Homo sapiens: one gene and its partners. The protein of the gene in region 3 purifies or fractionates together with the protein of the main gene of each other region. This does not show direct contact. Each region holds a gene or a part of one and is shown on either strand. Other genes may lie near its edges. The genes, in order: ACVR1, ACVR2B, RGMB, ACVR2A and BMPR1A.

Region 1 (3,521 bases), on a different chromosome or scaffold from region 3:
AAAGCAGAAACATTTTCTTTATTAAGAATAACTAATGTCCAAGAACACATTTTGATGCATATTGTGGCCAGCTAAGGGCTCCAAGAGAAGCAGCATCGAGGGGAAAAGCAGACTGGGGAGCAGGGAAGGAGTGGGAGACTCAGGGCTGGCCATGGGAATAGGCTTAGAGGAAGAGAGAGAAAGAAGTAGAGGGTGAAGGTGCTAAAATATTATTCAGTTTGCTTTGCATATGTCCCATAGGTGAAAATGTGAAATTATTTTTTCTCTGAGTAGAAATCAGTTTGTTTGGGGACAGTATGGCATAGTCAGTAAGAGTCTGGGTTCTAGAATCAGACCTACAGGAACCTAATATCAATTATGCGATCTACTTACTTCATGTGGTTTTTGGAGGATTGCATATAAAGTTCCAGGCATGTAGTACTCAATAATTATTAGCTGCCTCTGTTGTGGTTGCCGATGATGATGATGATCAAATAGGGGACCTTTCTTGGCTCACAGAGCCTTCCTATGCAAGGTATCAGGACAGCTAGCACTAAATTCAGAGTTGATAGCAACTTAAATAGCTGTGTGATCCTTGGCATCTCCCAGCACCAACTTTATTATCTGTAAAATGAGCATAATGATGTCTTTCTTACCAGCTTGTTGGGAAAAATCTCATGAGAAAATATATGTGAAAGTGACATAAATTTTATATAAAGTACTATGCAAGTATAAAGCATTTTAATGTATTTTCTCTTACATTTTCATAAGTCATTTAATTCTTCCTCAAGCCATATCCGTCTTAAAAAATTTTTTTTCTCACCTCTTTTTAAGTCCCAAACTTCACTGTCTACCAGCGTGGTTCATATATGTGAGAATAATCCTAGAAAGGCACCTCTGTAGCAGAAAAGGCAAGCACACGTCACAATTTATTTCATAAGATAGGAAGTGCCCCTAACTTCCAGACAGTCTTCTGCATGCTCAAAAGTTCCCTCCAGATGTCTAGAAAAATCTCTTCCGGGCTGATCGCGATGTCTCACGCTTGTAATCCCAGCACTTTGGGAGGCCAAGGCAGGTGGATCACCTGAAGGTCAGGAGTTTGAGACCAGCGTGGCCAACGTGGGGAAACCTCATCTCTACTTAAAATATAAAAAATTAGCCCGGCGTGATGGTGGGCCCCTGTAATCCCAGCTACTCGGGAGGCTGAGGCAGGAGAATCACTTGAACCCAGGAGGCGGTGGTTGCAGTGAACCGAGATCGCGCCATTGCACTCCAGCCTGGGCAACAAGAGGGAAACTTCGTCTCAAAAAAAAAGAAAAAGAAAAAGAAAAATCTTCTCCAACCTCTTCATCCACATTTGTCAGTCACTCACTTTACTTCAAGACCAGTTGAGTTGCCACTTCCTAATGGAAGCCTATTGTAACACCTAGTCTGAATTACTATAATTTCCTGCTCTGGGCTCATGTTGCCCTTTGAAGATATATATTATAGTACTTTTCGTATTTTATTGTAGTGTTTTCGTTTTTACATCTGTCTTCTTTAGCCAGCAAACACTATCATCTTGGTTTTTCTGTGTGTGACTGACAGATAGCATCATAAATACTCATATATTTGGTTGGTTTCTTTTTTTATTTCGTGAATCAGTCAATCATTTAATGTAAACTTGCCCCCTTTATTTTACATCTGAGCAGATATAGGCTAAGGAGCCTAACTGAGTTGCCCAGTATTAGACAAGTAAATCACAGGCAGAGTCAGGACTAGAATACAGTACTCAGGTTTTAGATTTGATGTTCTTTTAGGATGGTTGATGAATGGTCTGTTCCTAAAATATCAACATGCTGAAGGGCTTGGCACTATCATTATGGGTGAGCACAAAGATATTATTGCTATCTGAAACTTAAGGAATGTAAAATATCTTTTAAAGTATTACTTATAATGAAATGAATATGAAATTTTCCTATTAGCAGTGCCCTTTTAAGGAATAAATGCTATTATTTTTCTCTGTTGATGCTTCTGTAAACCTCCTCTTAGGGCAATTGGTCAGTTTAATTACTTTTTGTTACAGATGACATTTACTGTGTAGGTCGCTATTTCTAAATACTTTAAGTTATAATGTGGAATCCTCATGTATATTAATTTTTTTCTTGCTCTCTCCAGGTTTCATTGCTTCAGACATGACATCAAGACACTCCAGTACCCAGCTGTGGTTAATTACACATTATCATGAAATGGGATCGTTGTACGACTATCTTCAGCTTACTACTCTGGATACAGTTAGCTGCCTTCGAATAGTGCTGTCCATAGCTAGTGGTCTTGCACATTTGCACATAGAGATATTTGGGACCCAAGGGAAACCAGCCATTGCCCATCGAGATTTAAAGAGCAAAAATATTCTGGTTAAGAAGAATGGACAGTGTTGCATAGCAGATTTGGGTAAATTTCTAAAAATATTTTTTTCCTCACCAGTTTTATTTTTGTTTCAATGGTTAGGTGAGTTGCATCTCTCCCCCACAACATGTTATGCAAAATTTCAAACATGCAGAAAAGTTGAACATTTACAATGAACACCTTTATACCCACCACATAGATTCTCACATTAACATTTTACTATCCTTAAGCATTATTATGTATTTATTCATCTATTCATCTCCCCATCCATCAGTCCATATCAACCTTTGATAGAGTTGAAAGTAAATTGCAGACAAAGGAATTCTTTCTTCTGATGATTTCAGCATGTACACTAGTATATCATTGACAAGAATGCATTATTTGCTTTTTCTTTTTTTCAGGTAAAATTTATATACTGTGAGATATACAAATCTTAAGAGTTTTGACAAATGTTGTAAAACCCAAATCCCTGTCGAGATACAGAGTTTCCCATTACTCTTGACAGTTACCTCAGGCTCATTCAGTCAGTCCCTGCCACACCCCACCTCAGAAGTAACCAGTACTGTTGCATTTTGGTTTCACTAACCTTCACATAAAGTAGGTGCACAATAAATACTCTATAGAATTAGTTTATCTTAAAAGTGGTCTCTAAAATCATTCTGTAACCAAGGCAAAAGAATCAAGTTAAGAAATAGGAAAATAATCCCCGAACTGATTCACTCTTTTCCCTGTTAGGATAGCTCATTCTTATGGTGTTAGAGTAGTACTCAGTGTAGCTTTAGTTGCATTATAAATAAGAGTATTTTCATTTATAGTGGCATTTTATATAAAACCATGTTCTTCCTGGATTCCTAGAATATTGGCTAAATAATTGTGCTAATGAGAATTCAGGGCCCTCTACTTGATTAAACATGGTTTATATGATATTTATATTATTGCAATTATTGTTAGCCTGATAAAGGTTTAGACAAAAATAGCTTTAGTTATGTAAATAACAAAGTTTATTTTTGTTTGTTTTTAAACATAAGGGATTTGACATGTTAGGAAAATTTATTTCCTTTGAATCCCTTTAAAGTCTTTGCTTTTACATTGAGAAATTACAATGTTTCCCAAGTAGGAGACGAAAGATTTTAGGATAAGCATTGAAAGAGCAT
Region 2 (3,521 bases), on a different chromosome or scaffold from region 3:
TCTTCTGACTCTATTACATTGCTCAGTGATGTCTCTGACTAAGGCAGTGGTAGGTACTGGAAATCAATGGATAAAGCAGGCTGGGATTGTTCAAGGGTCAGCCATGTCTCTTCCCGGCCCAGGACCAATAATGGCTTCCCGCCTTCGGACAGCCCCATGCTTTCCCCTGGTTATTCTAGGCTTGCTGTACACATGCATGTGCCTTTTTCAGATTCTTTCTGGGACTGGCAGCTCCAACTGGGTGTTTTCATTCATGGACGCATGACCTCTGGAAGCGGGTGTGGAAAGGAAGCCTGTCCCACTGGGCAAATGTGAGGCCCTCTTCCCAGGGGAATGTTGTCTGGATGGGTCTGACCTGCTGGACAATGGGCCTTCTCCCTGGCCAGTTTCTGGGCTGGAGCTGAGGTGTTTTGTGAGGCGAGCTCATGCTCTTTGCATGTGTTCCTCTGCCGACTATTTCAGTTCCACTCTGACAACCAAGGAGGCTAAAATTAGTTCTGGAGAAGGAAAAGGAAGGCTGGTTGGAAACCCAAGCCCTTGGCTGGAGAATGGAGGAGGCTGCTTCCCAGGTTTGTGCCTGAGCATTTCGGAGGATGGGATGAGACCAGCTGTTATCCGTCCATCTGAGGAGAAGGAGGGGTCCCTGTGGCCTCCCAGACTTGAACCAATTAAAACAGGAGACTAACTTGGAAGCTGACTCTCTCGAGTGTTGATGCCAGGATATTTTTTCCTTCTGGCTTGTGCAGTGGCGCACAGTGTTTTCAGGTATGAGGACAATGCCTTTTAATGAATGTCCAGTGCCATTGACAACCCTCCTCCCCCTCCCCTCCAACTGGATTATGTGTCCGTTGATTTAGAAAGCATGCATGAGTTTTCCCAGCCTGGGCTGGCAACCATGGTTTAAGAACTCTTATTTTATGCACTTTTTGGGAATTTCCTTCTCACTGAGGTTTGATATTGGGTTAGAGGGGAGTCCTGTGGCCCAGGGCTCACACAAGAGGTCCCGCTTCTCTGTGTAGTGAGGGCATAGTGAATCAAGGCTCATCTGCTCTGGGCCTTAGAAACCAGAGGAGCAGAAGGGTTAGAGAGATGAATTCTGGTTTCTTTTCCCACCTGGCTGGCTCCTTCTGTGAACCTTCTGGCTGAGGGTGAGACCTACAGGGCTGTGTGGGAGTAGAAGGAGGGCCAGGGCAATGTAGTCCTATCTCCCCTGCCCTGAAACCTCGCATCCAAACCTCCCATCACTGAGAGGTTAGCCACCCTGGGGTATAGTTGGGGGAGTAGAAGTCACTTCCCCCATAACTAATTTTCCCATTTAAAAAAAATTTATTACTTTTTAAACAAGTAATATACCTACATTATATTGCAGAAATTTAGATGTTACAGATAATACTAGGGTCTCCTTTTATCACTTCTGTTCCCCATCCGAGGCCCCCTCCAAAGGTAATCCTTTTAAGATTGAGATGTATTCTTCCAGACATTTTTACTTGTGCATCTATAGAAATACTTATAGAAATAGAGAGGCTTTTGGCCGGGCGTGGTGGCTCATGCCTGTAATCCCAGCACTTTGGGAGGCCAAGGTGGGCGGATCACCTGAGGTCAGGAGTTCAAGACCAGCCTGACCAACATGGAGAAACCCCGTCTCTACTAAAAATACAAAAAATTAGCCCGGCGTGGTGGTGGGTCCCTGTAGTCCCAGCTACTCAAGAGGCTGAGGCAGGAGAATGGCGTGAACCCGGGAGGCGGAGCTTGCAGTGAGCCAAGATAGCACCACTGCACTCCAGCCTGGGCAACAGAGCGAGACTCCATCTCAAAATAAATAAATAAATAAACAAACAAATAAATAAATAAATAAATAGGCTTTTTTCCACCTAAAATGGTATTCAAGCATTTAATTGAAGTATAAAACATATACAGAAGAATGTACAAGTAATTACCATAAGTAACAGCTAAGAAGCATTTTCACAAATTGAATACACTGGTTTAGTCAGCATCCAAGTCAAGAATCAGAAATTTTCCAGCCCCCCATCCCCAGCAAGCCCTGTTTTGTTCCATTTCAGTCTCTGCCCACACCCACTAAGGTTAACTACTATTCTAACTTCTAACAGCATAAAATAGTTTCATCTGTTTCTGTGCTTCATATGAATAGAACCTTACAGAATAAACTGCTTTGTGTCCATCTTTTCCTCACCATGTTTGTGACTTTAAGCTATGTTGGATGTCATGGCTTTTTAAACTCGGAGATTTGCTTTGGCAAACTTTCTGATACATATGGATCTACTTTGATCTTTTTAATAACTACGTAATATTCTAAAGTTTAAATATAGACTACATTTTACCTAGTTTCTTACTGATGGACTTTGTGATTGTATAGAATGTATGCAGACTGTTTCTCAAGAGTAGATGAGAAAATAACATCTGGATCATAAGCACGTATGTTATTGGTTTTAATAGATACTGAAAAATGGTTATACCATTTTATTTATTTATTTTTTGAGGCTACCCAAGTGATGGCAGTGAGGGTAGAAGCTGGGTGATATGGCAGTTGGCTCTCTGCGGTAATCTGTGAACATCCTTCCTACCTCCACACCCCAACCCCTGCTGAAATGCTAGGTTACAGAGTTTAGAAATAGCCTGGTTTCATGAAGGGTGCGCGGACATGGGAAGGGCTCACTTCCACTGGCTTAATGTATGAGGAGACCTGGAGATAACCTCTCGTGCCTGTGTCTCCTACCTTGTGCCTGAGTCTCCTGGGTACTGTGCTGATGAGGGAGGTAGCACTGGACTAGCCAGGATGTGCTGGTCTGGGTTTGGGATGGAAGTGCATATGTATGTTCACTTACCAGGCTCTATGCTGCGTGCAGACTCTGAAGAGACTAAGGCACTTGTTGAAGGTCGCTGAAGAGCTCTGGGTAACAGCACTACTGGCAAGCCCACTGCATTTGACAAAATCTGAGTGTGACAAATTCTGATTTCATATGTCGTGATAATGACGTTGGGGGTATTGGAGAAACCTGTAGAAAAACTATTTTAGAGTCTGGTGAGAAGCTTTTCATGACAGAAGGAGCTCTGGTGAGTTTCTGTTCCTGGCTGAGTGTATGCCTTGTTCCCTGTATAAGTCTCTGCCACAGTTGGCAGAAGACTTAGGGAAGATAGTTTGGGATGACTTGTTCACCAAAGCTGTTGCTTCCCAGTCTTGTTCTTCAGCTTGCTGCCTACTCTTTACTGTTATGTTGGGATTCTTTATGTAAGTCCACTTGTCAGGCCCTGCTAATGGATTTAGATGACACTCAAGTTTGTGGAACTGTTTCTAGTACAAATGATACTCCAATCAGCTTTCCCACATTATACATATGATGTGCGCTGTTTGTGTCTTAGTCTGCTCAGGTTGCCATAATGGAATACCATAGATTGGGTGGCTTAAACAACTGAAATTTCTTTTCTTACAATTCTGGGGACTGGAAGTTAAAGATGAAGGTGCTGTCAGGATTCGTTTCCAGTGATTCTTCTCTCTTGGGTTG
Region 3 (3,187 bases):
TTGCTTGCTTTTTGGAAACTTGTTTGGAATCGGTTATCTTTGCTTTGTTGGCCCAACACAAGTAAATCCTCTTTGTTTTTCCTAAGGTGAACAAAAAAGTAGTTCTTGCAGATAATATCAAGTTGGTTTAAATTTTAGGTTTGTTAGACTAGAAAGACGAATTATTTAGCCGTCATTGAAGAGTTTAATCTTTGAGTAGATGTTACAGGTGAAAATGAGCATAGTGATTATATAAAAAGTCTATTACTAACTCTTATTTTAGCCATCTGTATTGTTGACTTTCAACTTTTTCAGGTGCAAAATTTTCTTGAATCAATCTTTTCATCTCCAAGGGATCCCAGCATGCCTTAAAAAAAAACACTTGTCAACGGATTTTAGAGCCACCAAATAAATCTATTTTATGGTCCCGTTAGATATCTAGCTCAAAACCCCCATTCACTCTGAAAGGTCCTATGGTTGGATGCACAACAAATTTCCTGAAATCATCTCTGATGCACCTCCTTTGGGTTGTTAAGAAGGTGTTGAAATGTGAGAAGGCTGGTAGTGAAATCAAGTTGTGGCTCAGGGTAATTAGGAAGGGAGAAAACCCAGCATTTTCATAGTACATTGTCTGGCTTTTAGTTGCAGCTGCACACAGCGGATATGAATTTAACCGGTTGCTACAGTGCAGCTGGTTCAGATCTGGCTTTATAACTGGCTGAAGTAAAATGAAATGGCTGGAAAATTCCAGTCAAGTAACACCAGTGGGAACAAGTGGAATTAAATAGTGTGAGCAAATGCTGGCCGAGTTGGAGAAAAACTTAAGACATAAACTTGAGGGTGGTGGTGAGGACTTCGGGTGGGCAGGCGGGGGGAGGGGGGTGCATTTTCTGGTCTTTTTCACAAGGGTCTATTGTTTCGATTAGTTTCCTTGCAGGAGGTAGAAGGTTTCCTCCATCCCGAGTAATTCATAGAGTGTTTGGCTTGTCTACCTTCCTCCTGACTGAAGTCACCTGATACTTTTTGTTTTTTCAAGAAGGAAGAGAGAACCCTGTTGCCTCAGTTACTAGCAATGATACAATTCTCAAAATCTGGTCTTTTTTTGTTTCTTTGAAATAGTTTCTCCATGTTGTGTGACACAGCAGCCCCTGTCTTATCATAGTTGTCTTCCCTCCACCACCTGTACCAGAGATGTTGGATATGTTGGAGGTGAAGGTGTGCAAGGTTTTTAACTAACTGTTCTAATTAAAGGATTCTGCAGGAAAGAACATGGGTTTACAAAAGAGAAGCTTTTGTATTATTAGTAATTTTTTTTCTTTGATGAATTTATGTGCTTAGTTTGGAGAATCGAGAGTTGGCTGGGAAAAGATTTCTGAGGAGTTAAGGGACTCTGGTGCTGTTTGGGAAAACATTTGCTGTAACTAGGTTTAGGGTATTCAGTCTCTGCCAGTGCTTAGGAGCTATATTTGCCAGGTGATTTCCCTGTCGCAGGGATTAGCCAGTGATGTGAAACATTTGATTAAGGGACTAATAGAAATCTTTCCTGGGGTACATGAGTGGTGGCTGTTACTGGGGTGCCCCCTCCTCAACTCTTTCTCTCTGTATTTCGAGTAAGTTTGTAGTGGTGAGTCATGGGATACAGTTTTTTAATCCTATGAAGAATCTTGGTAGGAAGCAAAGTTCTGTTAGGTATATTGTTAATTAAGCCCTTTAAAGTTTCTGCATAATAACTCAGAAACGAGCCTTTTTCTTTTCTCAGAACTATGCCATGACTCATCCACTTTGGAAGCAGACAAGATATAAATTATCAATAAAAATTGCCCATAATCTGGCCTGGCACAGTGGCTCATGCCTGTAATCCCAGCACTTTGGGAGATGATGGTGGGAGGATCGCTTGAGGCCAGGAGTTCAAGACCAGCCTGGGCAACGTAGTGAGGAACCCCCGACCTCCACCATCCCCCCCGCCCCCCACCAACCCCCTCACTTCAAAGTTTTTTAAATCAGCCACGCATGGTGGTATATGCCCTTAGTCCTGTGTACTCAGGAGGCTGAAGTGGGAAAGTCCTTTGAGCCCAGGAGTTGAACGTTGCAGTGAGCTATGAATGTGCCACCGCACTCTAGCCTGGGCAAGAGAGCTGACCCTGTCACTTAAAAAAAAAAAAAAAAAAAAACCGATATTCTGATAGCAACACTGCTCACTTGCTCACTCTTTCTCTTAGGAAAGTAAAAAAGTTTTGTCTTGATGCACAGATTTATTTAAACTTTAGTTCTAAATATATAGGACTTTAAAAAATATTTTCTGAAAGTGATATCCATTTTTGAGGTGCAAGCAGTTGGGTCCATTTTGGAGATTCCGCCTTAAGCCATTCAGCTTCAAAATGGCGGGGAGCTCTTGCTACAGAGGGTTACCCCGTTCTGCTTCCTTCCCATTCTGTTAAACCTTGTACATGCTCCTTCCCACAGATCACTATTATCTTCAAAGCCCACCATGAGTGTACAGATCAGAAAGTCTACCAAGCTGTGACAGATGACCTGCCGGCCGCCTTTGTGGATGGCACCACCAGTGGTGGGGACAGCGATGCCAAGAGCCTGCGTATCGTGGAAAGGGAGAGTGGCCACTATGTGGAGATGCACGCCCGCTATATAGGGACCACAGTGTTTGTGCGGCAGGTGGGTCGCTACCTGACCCTTGCCATCCGTATGCCTGAAGACCTGGCCATGTCCTACGAGGAGAGCCAGGACCTGCAGCTGTGCGTGAACGGCTGCCCCCTGAGTGAACGCATCGATGACGGGCAGGGCCAGGTGTCTGCCATCCTGGGACACAGCCTGCCTCGCACCTCCTTGGTGCAGGCCTGGCCTGGCTACACACTGGAGACTGCCAACACTCAATGCCATGAGAAGATGCCAGTGAAGGACATCTATTTCCAGTCCTGTGTCTTCGACCTGCTCACCACTGGTGATGCCAACTTTACTGCCGCAGCCCACAGTGCCTTGGAGGATGTGGAGGCCCTGCACCCAAGGAAGGAACGCTGGCACATTTTCCCCAGCAGTGGCAATGGGACTCCCCGTGGAGGCAGTGATTTGTCTGTCAGTCTAGGACTCACCTGCTTGATCCTTATCGTGTTTTTGTAGGGGTTGTCTTTTGTTTTGGTTTTTTATTTTTTGTCTATAACAAAATTTTAAAATATATATTGTCATAATATATTGA
Region 4 (3,521 bases), on a different chromosome or scaffold from region 3:
GCCAGGCATGGTGGCGCATGCCTGTAGTCCCAGTTACTCAGGAGGCTGAGGCAGGAGAATCACTTGAACTGGAAGGCTGGGGTTGTGGTAAGCCAAGATTGCACCACTGCACTCCAGCCTGGCCAACAGAGCGAGACTCAGTCTCAAAAAAAAAAGAAATAGGCAGATAAAGTAAACAGATGTGATATGTGATAAGGCAAATAAAGAGTAATCCTCTCGGCACCCTGTTAGTTTCTGTCCGAGCACGTATGACAATCTGTAATTATGTTGTTCATTTGACTACTTACTTTATGACTATAAGCTTCAGAAAGGCATAATCATATCTGTCTTCATGTTTAATAATGTATCCCAAGCACTTACCATAGTGTCTAGCATGTAGTTCAATATTGATTTGTTAAGTGAATGAATACCTATTTCACCCTCTTTAATTTAGGGTGAGTAAAGTGAAATCTTAATGGCTGTCAAAGGTCAAAGAAGAGTCAGTAGGAAAGTAGGAATTTGAATGACAGACTCTTAAGTTTTAGTCCAAAATATTATACCACATTCAAAATATTGATCTCAAAGTACAGTCATTGAATAGCTTTGTGTTTTCAAAGCTTAAAGTAGCTGGTACCTAAAAAACAGACTTGAGAATCTTTCAAAACTTTACTTCTACTAAAAAGTTTTAAAACACTTAAAAAGTTTAAGAGAAGTTGTCCAAGAAAAAAAGATATTTTAAATTCCCACTAATAAATAGAGACGATTTAGTCCATTGTTTCTTTTTAATGCATGCTAAAACAGTGAGACCTTAAAGAACTCTTTGTAAGGAACCACGATATCTGAATATTCTAGATATTTATTGGCAGCTATCTGGCTCTCTATAATGATATGTTCTTTGGCTGTATCATTTAGTCAGAGTATTATTTCACATTAACTGACTGATAAGTAACCTGCAAATGTAAATATCCCCCAAGAACCAAATCTATATTTTTTAATGTTTTACATACCATATCCTTTTAAATGGGACTTAAAGATAGATTAAAAACTAATATGTAAGATCTACTCTGGACCAGCTACCATGTTATGTGGAGTTATCAATTCATTTAATACATCTTGGTTTACAAATTTTAAAAGTTAATCTCAGAGTTTTAGAAATGTGCCAAGATCTCATAACTTGTCCATGCCCCTTCCTCTTGAAATAATGCCTTGGAGCAAGCTTGATATATCACATATAGTTATGAAGATGGGAAGAACAATAAACTTTTCCTTTAAAATAAAAATTTTAAAGTTAATAATCATAACTACGAAAACTCCTCCCTCTAAGCTTTATAAATAGGCTTACTTTTATTACAATATGTAAAGACTTGATTCATTTTTAAAATCTTTTGAAAGGCAACCCCTCCCCACATGTGTAGCCAGTCCTTCTAATGTAGTAACTCTCTTCTTGCTTTACATTTATTTTCTTTAGCAATATTAGAGAATAAAGTAATTCCCAGTGTGACTACAGCCAACCAAAGAAAAAACTAGTCCAAAAGAATGGTCACTGAAAAGTTTAGGTTTCAAGCGTGAATACCATATACCAAATTCAGAAAAGCATCTAAATCTACTTCCTTAGAACAGTGTATTTTACTGTAGGGTCTCATACAGATTTCAAAGAATATAATCTGGATGACCAGTATGAGTAATTACTGAAATTTGACCATCATTTAAACATAAACAACATATTGAGCCACTAATGTTTAGAATTCTTTAACTAGACTTCACAATGAAGACATATCCATCATACAGTGTCTGCCTCTTTAAGAGAATATTACGTTATCATGTTTTATTATGTACTCTTATTTTTCCAAATACATGTCTTTATTTCTATTCATGCTTATCATCTAAAACTATATCTATCTGTAAACTTTTTTAGTTATGAAGGCACTTTCAATTTTCCTCTGGCTCATTACTTCCTTACCAATTTTATTTAGTAGTGCTACCATTCTACCTTAGTCTTCGAGTTGCTTTTCAGTCCTATATCCACATATGGGGTATTTGGGACATACATCAGGATATGTATCATCCACTCTTACCTCCTCAGTTTTAATTACTTTTCATTTGAATTTAAGGGTTAACCCCCTGAGATTGTCCTACTTCTTCAAGCAATTGTGAACTCTCTTCATCACACAAATCTCTTCCTCAGATTTAGTCAAAATTTCTCCATCCCACCTTGCCTTCATCCATGGTCAAGTTTACTCTCAAATGGCTATTGTGTTCCTGATGCTATTTTGTGTCTTTTCCTTCATATTAACATCCTTCCTAATCTCCGTCTAAGACTTTTTTTCCAGTACTAAGTCCAGCAAGTCTTTCCTAAATTAAAAAATCCCAACTCCCCAAAATTACAATCTAATGTTGTTTCAGCGCCTTCGTGTGTGCTTAATTTATTCGACTAGTCCAAAAGAGAGAAGACCTTAATCAGGGAAGAGCCATGTTCTCCCTTGAGACCAGTTTTCCCTATATTCTATACCTAGGCACACAGTCTCTATTGTAGATTAATTAATGACCATATTTTTCAGTGCATATATTTTTCATTGCACACATTTACATATGAAGCTTCCTTTTCCACTAAGAGAGTACTGAATACAGGAAATAAGGATTGTTGAACTAGGTCACTGGTTTTAGGGATTTACAATCCATTAGTTGGTCAATGAATCAATTAATGGGTCACGATCAATGTTTTTTAAATGAAATGTAATATAAAAATACATAAGTGTCCTGCACATAGTTAAGAGTACACAGTTCATGAAACTTTCATTTCTGATGCACACAGACATATATACATACACCCCTACTACTACATGGGAACTAAGTCATAATGCAATGTGTAATTCCTATTGTGTATTACAGTCAAAAAAGTATGAAAGCCATGGAACATGAGGATACCTAAGATCCCCTCTAAATCTATATAATTCAAATTCTAATTTTAATTATTTAAAAAAATTTAAATTTGAACATAACTTAAAGATATCAAAACAATGAGCAAAATCATCTTTTCTTAATAAAATGTCACCACTGAACTCTAACCTTAAAATTATAGAACCATAAAGCTTTCAGAGTAGGAAAAAAAATCAGGGATCATCTAATCCAAGTTCACCACTTCAATACATTAAGAGGACAACCGTGGCTCAGAGAAGTGAAATAATTTCATTTCATTCATTTAATAAACATTTGCTGAGCACCTATTGTGTACCAGGTTCCAGGAATGGGTGTGTGGATAAAGGAAAGATGTCTTCAAAGAGTAGAAACAGGAAAGTAAACATTTGCACAGTCTAAAGTGGAAACAGGCAAGTAAACATTTGCAATTATTACTGAAATCAAGGTCATTTACAAGGTGTTAGATGAACAGAAAGCAACTAACTCAATCTGGGTTGAGTGACAGAGAAAATGTTTCTAAAGAGGTGATACTTCTCAGTCTTAAAACCAAAAAGGGGTTAGCCAGGTAGAAGAGGAAGAGTAATATGTACAAAGGCACCATACTGATATACAATAAAGGATTACAC
Region 5 (3,521 bases), on a different chromosome or scaffold from region 3:
TTGTACAAATACCATTGAATTTATAGGCTCTAGCAACAAACAATTAGGTAATTATAAAAACAGTATTTAAAATAGCATCAAAAACCATGAAATATTTAGAATAAGCCTAACAATTTATGCAAGACCTGCACACTGAAAATTATAAAACATTGCTGAAAGAAATTAATAAAGCCCTAAATAAGTGGAGATGTTTATAAATCTGAGGACTCAGTATTAAGATTTCAGTTTTCCTCAAATTGGTGTGTAATTTCATTCGAATCCAAATGAAAATCAGAGCAAACTTTTATAGCAATTGATGTATATTCTAACATTTATATGGAAATGCAAAGGACTAGAAGAGCCAAAACAATTTTGAAGTAGAAGAACAAAGAGGAATCACTACCTGATTTCTGGACTTACCGTAAAACTCAATAATGATCTCAATTTGGTACTGGCATAAGGATAGATGTATTGATGAATGGAACAGATTATGGAGTTTAGAAAGGAACATGCACTTAATATGGTTAATTGATTAAAAAAAAAAAAACAAAAAGATGCCCAAGTAATTCAATTGGAAAAAGGCAGTCCATTTAACAGATGGTGCAGGAAATATCAGGAATCCATTTACCAAGAAGTTAATCTCAGTCCTTACCTCCTCACTCTATACCAAATTAACTTGAAATGTAGCATAGACCTAAATGTAAAAGTTGAAGTATAAAACCTCTAAAAGAAAATGTCTGAAAAAATTATTCTGACCTTGGGCAGACTTCTTCAGTACATAAAAAACACAAATCATTTTTTTAATGATAAATCAGGCTTTATCAAAATTTAAAACTTCTGCTATTTAGAAGACAAGAAAATGAGAAGACAAGTCACAGATTGGCAAAACAGATCTGATACAGGGTTTTTGTGCAAAATATATAAAGACCTTTTGCAACTCAATAATAAGATAACCCAATTTTTTTAAAAAATGGACAAAAGATTTGAACAGACACTTCCCCAAAGAAGATATAAGAATGGCAAACAAGCACATGAAAAGATGCTCAGCATCAGCAGGGATATACAAATTAAACACAGTAAGATACTACTGCACATCCACTAGTATAGCTAAGACTGATAATATTAAGTGGTGCCAAAGATGTAGATCAACTAGAAATCTCATACATTGCTGGTTGGAATGCAAAATGGTATGGCTATTTTGAAAAATAGTTTGACAATTGCCTGGAAAGTTAAGGGCATACTTTCCGTACAATGAAGCAATCCTTCTGCTAATTATTTACCCAAGAGATATGAAAACTTGTCCACACCAGAGGCCTGAATGTGAATGTTTATAGCAGTTTTATTTATAATAGACATAAACTGGAAACAACCCCAAAGCTCATGAATTGCTAAATGAATAAACAAATGCTGGTACATTCATACAGTGGAATATTACTCATCAGTAAAAAGGAACAACTTCTAACACATGTAGCAGCAACAGTGGGTGAATTTCAAAAGTACTTTATGCTACATGAAAGAAGCCAGACACAAAAGGCTACACAAAAGTGATTCTCCTGCCTCAGCCTCCCAAGTAGCTGGGATTAAGGCATGCACCACCATGCCCAGCTAATTTTTGTATTTTTTTTTAAGTAGAGACAGGGTTTCACCATGTTGGCCAGGCTGGTCTTGAACTCCTGACCTCAGGTGATCCACCCGCCTCGGCCTCCCAAAGTGTTGGGATTACAGGCGTGAGCCACCACGCCTGGCCAAAAAGTGAGAATTTTTTTACGTTATTAAAATATTCTGTATCTTAATTGTGGTATTGGTGATTACATGATATAGATTTGTCCAAGGCTTGTTGAACTTTTCTCAAAAAGGGTACATTTTATATAAATTATACCTCAATAATCTTGACTTAAAAACTTACAGGCTGAGGCAGGCAGATCACTTGAGGTCAGGTGTTCGAGACCAGTCTGGCCAACATGGTGAAACCCTGTCTCTACTAAAAATACAAAAATTAGCTGGACGTGGTGGCAGATGCCTGTAATCCCAGCTGCTCGGGAGGCTGAGGCAGGAAATTGTTTTAACTGGGGAGGCAGAAGTTGCAGTGAGCTGAGATTGGCCGCCGCACTCCAGCCTGAGCAACGGAGCGAGACTCTGTCTCAAAAAAACAGAACAAAATTTACAAAAGGATTCTATAATAAATGATACATAAAGTCACTTTAGCTTTGCACTAAATCTAGTCCATTTTAGAAGCATTTCCAACTTGGAGCATAATGTTCTTTTTAATTTAGAATGATCACTAATGCTTCTGAAAATGAAAGATAACAATCCATGTACATCTTTTATTTAACAAATATTAAAGTACTTCTGATATTGTCCCAAATAAATACTTATATTCTGTGAGCAGGGGATGGAATTCAAGCAAATATATATGTAAATAAGAATAAAGTTATGATTGTGTTAAGCGCAGCAACTGAGAGGTTTTGTGTGCTATGAAGGTGTTTAAGTGAGAAAATAGCACTCTAAGTAAAGGGAACTGGATATTCAAAAAAACCCAGCGACAGGAATAAGCTTGAGTGAATTCTAAAAGTTGAGATAAGTCAAACGAGGTTTGTGGGTGGGTGGTCAAAGCAAATAATGGGACCAGGCCAGATCAGGCAGGGTCTTATAGATGGGATTTTTAAGATCTTTAACTGTTATTTGGACTTTGCTGCATAATAAACCACCCCAAAACTTAGTGATGTGAAGCAACAAACATTATTTCTCATTCTGTGAGTCTGTGGGGCAGTTCATTTGTTGGACTTGCTTAGCTAGAGCTAGGTGGTGTAGTTCACACCCTTGGCCGACAGTTCATGCTGCCATTATTTTTTGGTCACAGGGTTCCCAAAGCAGCAGGAAGGGGGCAAGCCCCAGTCCACAAACATTTGTCAGGTCTTTGCTTGCATCACGTTCGCTGTTGTTCTTTTATCCAAAGCAAGTCATGTGGCCTAAGCCCTGAGTCTGTGGACCAAGACTACCCACGACTGTGTGCACTGGGAGGGTAATTATTATGACCATTTTTGCAAACAGCCAGCCACTTGAATAACCTGTTTATGATTTCAGAATACATTGTACATTGTTTCATACTTTAAAGTACATTATGGCCGGGCATGGTGGCTCACGCCTGTAATCCCAGCATTATGGGAGGCCGGGGGTGGGGTGGATCACCTGAGGTCAGGAGTTCAAGACCAGCCTGGTCAACGTGGCTAAACCCCATCTCTACTAAAAATACAAAAAAATTAGCTGGGCATGGTGGCGGGTGTCTGTAATCCCAGCTACTTGGGAGGCTGAGGCAGGAGAATCACTTGAATCTAAAAGGTGAAGGTTGCAGTGAGCCGAGATCGCGCCACTGCACTCCATCCTGGGTGACAGAGCGAGACTCCATCTCAAAAAAAAAAAAGTACATTATAAGTTTTTAACTGGAGTTGGTTGGGTACACCATGCTTTTTGATGAGATGGACTACCCCTTTGCCAGTCTTAATGGGTTTCTTTCATCAAGAGCTCAAACCTTTTACTTTTTT

The links.
Region 1: the proteins of RGMB (region 3) and ACVR1 purify together in Homo sapiens (affinity purification with western blotting, with the first as the bait; one study listed by BioGRID). This does not show direct contact.
Region 2: the proteins of RGMB (region 3) and ACVR2B purify together in Homo sapiens (affinity purification with western blotting, with the first as the bait; one study listed by BioGRID). This does not show direct contact.
Region 4: the proteins of RGMB (region 3) and ACVR2A purify together in Homo sapiens (affinity purification with western blotting, with the first as the bait; one study listed by BioGRID). This does not show direct contact.
Region 5: the proteins of RGMB (region 3) and BMPR1A purify together in Homo sapiens (affinity purification with western blotting, with the first as the bait; one study listed by BioGRID). This does not show direct contact.

Annotation. Positions count from the first base shown.
Region 1 is NC_000002.12:157,764,812-157,768,332, reverse strand, and holds part of ACVR1 (activin receptor type-1 precursor), read left to right. Parts: intron 1-2,136; coding exon 2,137-2,412; intron 2,413-3,521. UniProt on the Homo sapiens protein: Bone morphogenetic protein (BMP) type I receptor that is involved in a wide variety of biological processes, including bone, heart, cartilage, nervous, and reproductive system development and regulation.
Region 2 is NC_000003.12:38,460,382-38,463,902, forward strand, and holds part of ACVR2B (activin receptor type-2B precursor), read left to right. Parts: intron 1-3,521. UniProt on the Homo sapiens protein: Transmembrane serine/threonine kinase activin type-2 receptor forming an activin receptor complex with activin type-1 serine/threonine kinase receptors (ACVR1, ACVR1B or ACVR1c).
Region 3 is NC_000005.10:98,790,643-98,793,829, forward strand, and holds part of RGMB (repulsive guidance molecule B isoform 1 precursor), read left to right. Parts: intron 1-2,442; coding exon 2,443-3,111; 3' UTR 3,112-3,187. UniProt on the Homo sapiens protein: Member of the repulsive guidance molecule (RGM) family that contributes to the patterning of the developing nervous system. Acts as a bone morphogenetic protein (BMP) coreceptor that potentiates BMP signaling. Promotes neuronal adhesion.
Region 4 is NC_000002.12:147,851,524-147,855,044, reverse strand, and holds part of ACVR2A (activin receptor type-2A isoform 1 precursor), read right to left. Parts: intron 1-3,521. UniProt on the Homo sapiens protein: On ligand binding, forms a receptor complex consisting of two type II and two type I transmembrane serine/threonine kinases.
Region 5 is NC_000010.11:86,913,605-86,917,125, forward strand, and holds part of BMPR1A (bone morphogenetic protein receptor type-1A isoform 3 precursor), read left to right. Parts: intron 1-3,521. UniProt on the Homo sapiens protein: On ligand binding, forms a receptor complex consisting of two type II and two type I transmembrane serine/threonine kinases.